Linked DNA regions of Homo sapiens: region 1 is linked to region 2. The links come from fine-mapping of genetic effects on gene expression. A gene starts in region 2. The other region holds a variant in brackets. All regions are shown on one strand. Distances are from middle to middle.

Region 1 (5,381 bases), 140 kb after region 2:
CTCAAAAAAAAAAAAAAAAAGAAAAGAAAAAGAAGTGAATGAATTGGTACAGAATAAGAAGTCAAGCCTTTATATTGATCTAGTCATGGGGATGAGCTCTTGGTGTGAACAGTGATCCAGAGAGAGTTTTGTAGACTCTGAGTTTCAAGAATTTGGATCTTTGCAAACCAATCAACCTCAATTATCTTTCCCTACAAAATGTCCAGACCAAAATTATGACAAAACAACTTCATCTTGCTTCCCCAATTTGACTAAATAAAAATAACATTTCTAATCAATTGATACTTTAATTCAACGTAACTCACATCCTGAGCTCCTCTTATGTGCCAGACATGAGAAGGCAAGTAAATCATAGCTCACACATGATGGAGCTCCCAGTTTCATGAATAAAGGATTGCAGTAAAATGTAACAGGAATGTTCAGGATGCAAAATCCCTACAAAGAAGCCGCTGACAGCTGGAAATGCTGGGGGAAACTTTGCAAAGGATATGATGATTGAACTAGATTTTTATAGAATGAATAGGGGTTTATCCAGTGAAATAGGAAAGAAAAGCAATTTCAGAGAAGAAAGAGTATGCACAAAGCACAAATGTGTGAAAAGAGGTTAACATTAGAGAATCGTGAGTGGATCTGTGTGGTATGATTATAAGGAAGTCAGGAAAACTGTAAGAGATAAGGGAGGGTGGGGCCAGATGAAATTCTATAGGTTAACACGTCGCTAACACAGGCCTTCTAAAGCTTGTTCAGATACCATCAGGGTGCAGAATCCTGCACCAGGTATCATATGCAGGGAGATAGAAAACAAGTAGAACATGGCTGGGCGTGGTGGCTCACGCCTGTAATCCCAGCACTGGGAGGCCGAGGCGGGCAGATCACAAGGTCAGGAGATCGAGACTATCCTGGCTAACACGGTGAAACCCCATCTCTACTAAAAATACAAAAAATTAGCTGGGCGTGGTGGTGGACACCTGTAGTCCCAGCTACTCGGGAGGCTGGGGAAGGAGAATGGTGTGAACCCGGGAGGTGGAGCTTGCAGTGAGCTGAGATTGTGCCACTGCACTCCAGCCTGGGCGACAGTGTGAGACTCGGTCTCAAAAAAAAAAAAAAATTAAAGAAAAGAAAACAAGTAGAACACATGGCCCCTTTCCTCACAGGGCATTGTGATCACAGTAATACCAATAAAGGAGCAAAGACTGCCAAAAAGTTATGGGATAGGGGCAAGCTCACTTGTGCCCCTTCTTATAGAGCAACCTTGCAGGTAACAAGGATGTGAAATGGGAGAGCATGGCAGTGCCTGGCACGTAGCAGGCATTCCACAAATACTAGCTGCCTTGGGATCTGTAGGTCTCCTTTTGCAAAAGACTGGAGGTTGTATTCATGAGCATGAGATACAGCAAGTTCCTAAGAATACATACAGGGCATCCCCAGATGATTCTCTGTATATCTGACAGATGATCCTTCATAGTGATGTTTTGCTTCATCTAGGGGAAAAAAAGTACTTTTAGGCAAACTAAAATTGTGACATTTTTATTCATAAAAGAAATAGATTAAAATATTTTATGGCGCTTGATACAGGGCTTGGTATTTTCATATGTTATAATAGAAAGTTTCAAATTTCTGGGCCGGGTGTAGTGACTTTCGTCTGTAATCCCAGCAATTTGGGAGGCTGAGGTGGGCTGATGGCTTGAGCTCAGGAGTTCAAGACCAGCCTGGGCAAAGTGGTGAAACCTCATCTCTACACACATTTTAAAAAAGCCAAAAAAAGAGCCAAGCATGGTGGCGCCTGCCTGTGGTCCCAGCTACTCAAGAGGCTGAGGTGGGAGGATTGCTTGAATCAGGGAGGCAGAGGTTGCAGTGAGCCGAGATCACACCACTACACTCAAGCCTTGGTGACAGAGCCAGACCCTGTCTCAAAAAAGAAAAAAAAAATTTCAATTTTCTGTACCCAATGTTTTAAAACAAAGGCAAGTGACAAAACTGAATGCAAAAAAGTATCTGCATGGAAAAATGTGTTAGCAGTTTACATTCAGCCCAGATGCCTGTTTACAGTATGCACAATATAATAATAATATTTTCAGAATGATAGTACTGTACTCCAAGGTGCTTAATTACTTCTTCAGAGAATAATTATGACCATTGTACTCACTGAGGCAGGAAAGCTAATTAATGCATTGAAAGTACTTTCAGAAACAAAGGATTTTACTTTTTTTTTTTGCCTTTTAGTTGTGTAAAAAATCAGTCCAAATACTTCATTCTTCAAACTTTCATAAAAATTTCATTATATTTGTACAAATATCTGAAAACATTGTCTCATGTTGCTTGGCTTAGAATAGATGCCCTTAGTGTTGGAAATCACGGAACACACTATTGATTTAGCATTAAAAGGATGAAAGACTTTAAAGCGAAGAACCCCACAAGAAGATAAGGTGTCTCAGGATCTTTGAGTGGGAGTACCACAAAGGCATTGTAACATGTTTAAAGGACACAGATTCTTATCAGCAACCAACCTGATCTATATAACCTTTATATTTTTTGATTTGGTCAATTGCAGTGGTCAAGTCCCCACGGTCAACATGCTCTGCAGGGGTATGAAGCCTGACAGCGTAGAGAAGATTAAGGTATTCTTCAAATCTTCGGGATGGGTACAGCAGCAGCTCTGGCAGGCTGTATGAGGCATAGAGAAGGGAGCTCTGGTCTCTGAAGGCCCAGGAATGCCCTCTCTGGGGGGACCCCTGCTGTGCTCTCCCTCAGAACGTACCTCAGCATTTTGGTAACAATGGTCTTATCATGCCTCTTCAGGAAAGTTCGGAATGCTGGTATCATTTCTCTGCACTAAAAGGTGAGGATTATATTGTCAAAACTTTATGAGATAGTTGTAAAGTCCACTGTTC[CA/A]CTGAGCAAGCATGATCTATGGAATGCCTGAAGCAAAAGGGCAACATCTATGTCTAACCAATTAGTAGACTGTTAGTAGTGCCATTGGTGTCTTCCTAATATGTTAAGAATGTGTGTTGGCCGGGCGCTATGGCTCATGCCTGTAATTCCAGCACTTTGGGAGGCGGAGGCAGGCGGATCACGAGGTCAGGAGATGGAAACCATCCTGGCTAACATGGTGAAACCCTGTCTCTACTAAAAATACAAAAAATTGGCCAGGCGTGGTGGCGGGCGCCTGTAGTCCTAACTACTCAGGAGGCTGAGGCAGAAGAATGGCATGAACCTGTGAGGCGGAGCTTGCAGTGATCCAAGATAGCGCCACTGCACTCCAGCCTGGGCAACAGAGCGAGACTCCATCTCAAAAAAAAAAAAAAAAAAAAAAAAGAATGTGTGTTAATTATACATAGACCTGACCCTATTCATTGAACTTAATCAGTATAGACAAATAAGAATGTACTTTGCAACCAGGTGGGCCTGGATTTGAATTAGAATAAATCGAATATATAACCTTGTCAAATTACTTAACTTTTCTGAGCCTCAGTTTTCTCATCTGTAACATGGATATCATCTCTAATGTTGTGGTGTGGAAAAAAAACAATCCTATCCATAAAGTGGCTGTCACACAGTAAATGTTATTTCAGTATAGTAAGATCTTGACTATTAATGGTATTCACCTTTAATACTTCTGTTAATTACGTTTTCCATAGTAATATTTATTATACAGGTATTCTACTGTACTTAATATATTTTTTTTGTTTTTTGTTTTTTTGAGACAGAGTCTTGCTCTGTCATCCAGGCTGGAGTAGAGTGGCATAATCTCGGCTCACTGCAACCTCTGCCTCCCAGGTTCAAGCGATTCTCCTGCCTCAGCCTCCCAAGTAGCTAGGATTACAGGTGCCCGCCACCATGCCTGGCTAATTTTTGTATTTTTAGTAGAGACGGGGTTTCACCATGTTGGCCAGGCTGGTCTCGAACTCCTGACCTCAGATGATCCACCTGCCTAGGCCTCTCAAAGTGCTGGGATTACAGGTGTGAGCCACCGCACTGAGCCTTAATATCTGTTTTAAAATGTATTCATTTATCACTATTAGAGCACCCGTAAAGTTACCTCCCTTTCCATGCCTGAAAGATGTCAGCAATGCTAACTTACAGAAATCAAATATTCACTGATTTCATTACTGGACTTTCGGCTAAGACCAAGTGAAATATTCATGGATTTCAATCATATTAATAGCTAACATTGGCTGGCATGGTGGCCCACACCTGTAATCCCAGCACTTTGGGAGACAGAGTTGGGCAGATTGCTTGAGCCCAGGAGTTTAAGACCAGCCTGGACAACATGGTGAAACTCCGTCTCTACAAAAAATACAAAAAAATTAGCCAGGTGTGGTGGCACATGCCTGTAGTCCTAGATACTTGGTAGGCTGAGGTGGGAGGATCACCTGAGCCTGGGGAAGTCGAGGCTGCAGTGAGCTGTAATCATGCCACTGCACTCCAGCCTAGGTGACAGAGGGAGACCCTGTCTCAAAACAAACCCCACAACCAAATAACTAACATTTAAGCTAAGTACTTACTTGTGTGCACACACTGGGCTAGTGAACTAGGCATCATTATCTATAGCTAAAAAAATTTAGGCACCAGTGTGTTCCTGATACCATGTGATACTTTGCTCCAATCCTTGTCTCCAAGGTCGGTTCTATGAAACTACCTTATTTATGTAACTTTTGAATCATCAAGTTGTCCAGCAGGGACTAGACTCCCTGGGTGGGGTAGAAGGAATACTACAAAGGAAGCTGTCCAAGGGCCGGAGCCCTCCAGAGGCCTCCCAGCCCACAGGCCTTTCCTGCAGGGCCTCAGTGAAGACGAGTGGTCACAGTGGACTCTGGCAGAAGTGTGCTGCCATGTGACAAGGTAGCCTTTTCTAGGCTTTCGATACCAATTGAGGAGGGAAGAAAGAGGGATGTTATTCCCATAAGAAGGTATCCCCACAAGAGCAGCAAGTGGTACATGAGGGAATTGGATATTCCTGCTCAGATTAAATAATGCCAGAAATTGCAACAGGGAAAACTGTTAATAATTTACTCTCTAGGAAATGTAAGACCAAGACATTCCTTACTTGATAGTGACATTTCATAAATTGATTGTTCTTCCAAGAAAGATGTGGATGATTAATTTATTTTCTACATGAGAGAGTGAACTTGTCAAGGATACACAGGATTGTAGTAGCAGAGTGGATTCCAAGCTCAACTGTGGAGCATTTTCCTGTAAGCTGAGGGTATCTGGGGCAGGTGAAAGCCTGGCCATTTGCATGAGGATGAGTTCAGTTTAAGAACCAGTTCCTGGCAATGCTGGGTGTCAAATATTGTGCTAGCCCCTAAGTCAGGGTTCCTGTCCTCAGAGATCACACAGTATGGGAAGACAGCTGGGAGCTAAGAGCAGAGAAGCCTTTC
Region 2 (5,352 bases):
AAGATGTTATCTCTTTAACACCCTTCTTCGCTCCTTCCTCCCACCTCCAGCAACATACTTCAGACTTAGCTCTCATTGAATAATGAGCATCAAAGGGGAAATTCATCTATTATATATAGTACGCATACCTGCATTATAGTAAGCAGATGTACGTTCATCCAATTTTAAGCATGAAAGGCAACCAGCGTTTCTTTATAATTAATTACACATCAGGCTCCTTATCTACGTTAATTCATGTAGTTCTAAGAACCTTGCAAGGCATTTATTTACCTCTATTTTAAGGATAACGAAACAGGGGTTAATGCCCCACAATTAAATGCTGTCTCTACCACATCGTGGTGGCTGTTTCCCCGCTTCCTCTTCCTCTTTTGCCATTATGCAAATACACTAAATATAATAGTGAGTGGTATTTGTATGAAACGTGACATGCTGAGCTCTTACCAAGGCAGAACACTTACAAAGCAAGAAAGGCTCCCTGCCCAGACCACCATAAATAGGAAAATAACAGGTTTAAAAACAATTGCTAGCATACATAATTTGACGTTTTATTTATTTATTATTTAGGAAGGAGAGGGACAAAGGGGGAAAAATACCTATTGTGACACAATCCTTTAAAGACCCATGGCCTTTTATAATAAGGACAGAATCCCAGGACTGCAGAGAGCAAGATGAAGAACAATGAAGGGGGCGGAGGGTGAAGAGAGGTTGATGGGTATAAACACAGAAGAAATAAGACCTGGTGTTGCATTGATCAGTGGGGTGACTATAGTTCACATTAATGGATTGTACACTTCCAAATGGCTAAAAGCAAGTTAAGTTGAATGTTCCTAGCATAAAGAAGAGATAAATATTTAGGGTGATGGATATACCAATTACCCTGATTTGGTTATACGAATGTAACACATTCTCACGAGTACCGTGAAACTATGTCTAAGAAAAAAAAAAAGAAAAGAACAATGAGGAGAGGTGAGAAGCAGAGCAAGTCTAAAGGGAAGAGCTTAATGGTGAGCGGCTGGACCAGAAGACAGGAAAAGGCTCCAGGGAAGGCGAGGTAGATGACGGCCAGGCACTCTAATTGTCGCAGAATCGATTTCGGCTTTGTGCGTGGGAAACACAAAGGAAGCGGAAAGTCGGAGGACTGGGCAGAACCCGAAACTCACCACCAATACACACTTTAGAATGTATTTAAGGACCCTCAGGGCATTGTTATTTTTCAAAAGTTTGGAGGCAATGCATGGAGATTTTCTAATATCCAAGGAAATAAAGCCTACTGGAATAGGTATGTCCGGAATCAGGAACCAACTTTACACACTCGGGCTGGGCACGTTTTCCCAGCCCTTCTTCGCAATCGCGGACAAGCAGCTGGTGCGGGTCAAAGGGTGACTGGGCTCCTTACTCCCTCCGGTCTGGGGCGCGCTCACTCCATATTTGGCCATTCTGCTACCAGCTTGGGGTTCTGCCTGGTAGAGGTCCCCTAACCCCGTGCCCTGCAGCCCATCATCACACGGTCACCGCCGGCACCAGTGCAGGGCTGGGGAGCGCGGGGCTGGGCCCCCCGTGGCGGGGCGGCACCGCTGGCGCCCGGGAAGGGCCGCGTCCCGGAAGTCTTTGTCTCCGCAGCTCCCGGCCCGGCGCCGCGGGTCTGCCTCCCCCGTGGCCCGGGCGCCCCGAAGCGCCGCGAGAGCGAGCACCCAACCCGGGCGACGAAAACGGACCCTGCCCCGGGCTCCACGAGCCCCTGGTGTCCCCTCACGACTCTGCACCCCCTGATCTGGAGCGCACAGAGCCGCACCCACCTCCGGCGCTGCAGAGTCCACTGCCCTGAGGCCACCACGTTCCTCGGGGCAGCCTCTCCTCTCGCCCCCAGCCCTTCCCCACCCAGCTCTGCAGAACTGGCTCCTGAACCACCGCCAAGTGCAAAGCCGACACGTCGCACCGCGGTAAAAATCGTTCCATTTCTGCCGGCTTCCCAGTCCGCCCCCGGCCGGCGAAACGTCACGTGAGCCGAGTGCGGAAGTCGACCCGAGAGGTGGGGGCGTGGGCGGCGCGCGCCCCACGGGACCCCAACCCGCGAGGTCTCGGCCCAGCCGGTCGCAGCTTCCGCGCGCCCTGAGCCCCCTCCCGGCCCCCTCCTGACCCGACTCTCACCGCAGCCCGCGGTGCCCGGCGGCGCACCACGGACACCCAGTCCATCCCTGCTACCTAAGCCACATCTGCCCGGGCGCTCACGCACCTCTCTGCGCGGTTTTCCTTCCCGCCGGAGAACTGGCGCCGCGTGGGTCTGGACCCGGTTACCTTCTTCAGTGCACTGGGGAGGGTGAGGCCAAGGAAGGAAGTGGCTGAGGCAAAGAGAAAGACGGCTGTGGAGGAGGAGGAGCAGGGTAGGGGGAAAAGTAAGTGTTTCTGCGCTCAAGAAAGGGGCCGCCCACACTCCCAGGGACAAGCCTATGAGGAGGAAACTCAGGGGAGGAGACGTCCAAGAAAGGGGCTGACTGCAGACAGGTGAAGCGCCCTGGGCTCCTAGGAAAACGGGCCCAGAGCCTGGATTACCTCACTTTTCCACCGTGCTACTCAGAGCCAAGGATCCCAGGATCTGCATCTGATCCTGGGCGTCGATTTCCTGATGGATTTCTCTCCCAACGTAAGAAACAAAGCGCCCTCAAATTGCTGAAGGCTGCTAGAAAGAACGTGGCATTCATGGGTTCCGGATGCCGGGGGCCTCCAGAAAACTACGACTCATGACTTAAAAATGGCTTAATTCGCAAAACAAAATGCAATCTTGAAAGCCAATTTGTCAGACTGCAAAGAAATTTTACTTGGACATAGATAGTTGTTGACCCTGGGTCAGTATCGGTTTCTTCCCTTGTTCATTCATTATTTCATACATTTAACTTCATAATTCAATTTATTCATGCTCCCTTTGTTTTAGTCACTGTTATTTTAATATATGCGTGTGTGAGAGAGAGATGCTTACCGTACCCAGAGAGTCCTTTTGGAAAGGAAACAGTTACCCAAACTATTTCTAGAGCAGGGGTTGCACAAATAACTACAAAAAACGTTCCTTACCCCCTCCCCACCCCCAGCCCAGCTAATTTAAATTAAGAGTGATCGCGTGACCCAAGAGCGCACAATCCGTGATGTAGTCATCATCCTGTGAGGTGACCTGGAGCAAACAGTTCTCATCAAACACGGACTCTGATAGTTAGTAAGCCAATCAGACACTCCCTTGGAAATGGAAAGTGGAGAATGCAGAGACGGAGCTGTCTGATGTAAGAGAAAGGTTGGAGCTAAGAGAGGGTAAGGCAGAAGGGGCCAAAATGGGCTTCGGATGCAAAACATTTGAGTAAGCAGAAACCAGGAGAATGTAGCAGCAGGTTGGGTGGAGGCACAAGTGGTAGAAGCCAGTCAAAGACAAGCTGAGACCAAGTGATGGAAGGAGAGCAACAAAGACCTGCTTCCCAGGGGCATGTGAGTGTTCAGTTCCCTGGGGCTGCACTGGATCCATCCACTTCCCACGCTTCATTCTAGTCTTTACGGTGAATACCTGTCTCCTGGGTGTGACTGAAGGAGTCTCTGTTCTGTAATCTTCAACAAAGGTCTGATTCTTCTAAGTGTCTCATGGCAGATAAAGTTTAAGGTGACTCCAAGATCTTTTCAGACCTATTTTTTTCTTTTACTTGTTTTATATTGTTACCAAAATGATTGAGGCCTATTTTTTTCTCACCAAAAGAAAGGTGAGAAGTTATAGTTTATATCTTTCACAGTCGACATAAGGCAAAAAATATATAATTCAAGAAAAATATATTTAGCAATTATCGAAGCAGGACCTCGCTATTTTGGCCTGTGACAGGGATCACAATTCATCAGTCAGATAATATCCAATGATAGGAATAATGAGTCTGGAGAGCACCGCTTCTGTTATGATTAGGTAATTAGTATTGCCCTAATTGCCAACCAAAGAAAAAGAAATAGGTTACTTTACCTAAAGAAGTAAACATCCTTGTTAATATAAAAATAAACTCACCCAAAAGATACTTTGTTTACACATGTGCTAAACTAAGTATAACACAAGCTTTATGTTAATCTATAAGGAATTACAATTTAAGAAAATTGTTTTGTCGGCTGGGCGCAGTGGCTCATGCCTGTAATCCTAACACTTTGGGAGGCCAAGGTGGACGGATCACCTGAGGTCAGGAGTTCGAGACCAGCCTGCCCAACATGGCAAAACCCCGTCTCTACTAAAAATACAAAAATTAGCCAGGCGTGGTGGCACATGCTTGTAATCCCAGCTACTCTGGAGGCTGAGGCAGAAGAATCACTAGAACCCAGGAGGCGAAGGTTGCAGTGACCCAAGAGCGTGCCACTGCACTCCAGCCTGGGCAACAGAGTGAGGCTGCATCTCAAAAAAAAAAAAAAAAAAAAAAAAGGAAAGAAAAGAAAAGAAAAGAAAAAAGAAAGCTGTTTTGATAAAAGAAATATTAAAAAATCTTAACTAATATTTTTCATATCCAATCCTAGTCCTTCAATTTCCAAATAGACTTTTGTTATCTATTCTTATTCCCTCAGGAATATCATCATGTACAATGTAAGCAATGTGGAAGTTTAACCTAAAAAGAAAATAATACAATTTATCAAATTAAAGAGTATTTAATATATTTTAAATAAATGTGCCAGCCACAAAGTGCCAATACTAAATCGTCCAAAGTAGCCCATGACCTGTCCTTTGTCAAACAGAACTGCAAGTAATGTACATTTGAAATATTAAAACAATCCTTATCCATGTATTTAATTGCATGCATTGTAATTTAATTGCATGTATTTAATTCGGACCAGCACTGTCCGAAGGAAATAAAATTGTGAACAACACGTCCAATTTAAAATTTCTAGTAGCCACATTTTTTTTAAAAAGGTGAGATTTATTTTAATAATATGTTTTATTTCACCCAGTATATCCAAACTACTATCATTTCAACCTGTAATGGATATTTTGAAATTATTAATAAGACATTGTACATTCTTTATTTCATACTAAATCTTGTAAGTCTATTTTGTATTTTACATTTACCCAACATTTCAGGTGCTCAATAGCCTTCTATGGCTAGTGGCTGCTGTATTAGACAGTGTAGCTATAGACAATTCCAGAATAAAGCGTTATATTATATGCTAATACTTTACTTAAAAACTTATTACATGTTCCTGGAAGGAGAAAAATAACACTATGATATTTAAACACTCATGGAAAATCGAAGTCATTATTTTAAAAATGCAGTTGTCTGCACTGTAATGAATAGAAAAAACTTTTCTATTTTTTCCTCTATCTTAGAGGATCTCTAGGATGGCAATTCCATCCTG

Evidence for each region. PIP is the estimated chance that this variant, and not a neighbour inherited with it, causes the effect.
Region 1: its variant is the best candidate, but not a certain one, in a credible set for the expression of ABRACL in monocytes (TOPMed, PIP 0.75).

The regions. Positions count from the first base shown.
Region 1 is chr6:138,882,957-138,888,337 of GRCh38, reverse strand. ECT2L (epithelial cell transforming 2 like) reads right to left here. Exons shown (of 22, transcript NM_001077706.3): 17 at 2,759-2,832; 18 at 2,508-2,664; 19 at 1,416-1,481. Among named protein-coding and RNA genes, the nearest start is that of ECT2L, 90 kb to the right of the region's middle. The variant CA/A (reference allele first, on the strand shown) is at 2,892.
Region 2 is chr6:139,025,757-139,031,108 of GRCh38, reverse strand. It overlaps ABRACL (ABRA C-terminal like), which reads right to left and starts at 2,364. Exons shown (of 3, transcript NM_021243.3): 1 at 2,234-2,364. RefSeq lists silencers at 1,171-1,361, 1,411-1,780, 2,041-2,200 and enhancers at 581-1,400, 1,223-1,517.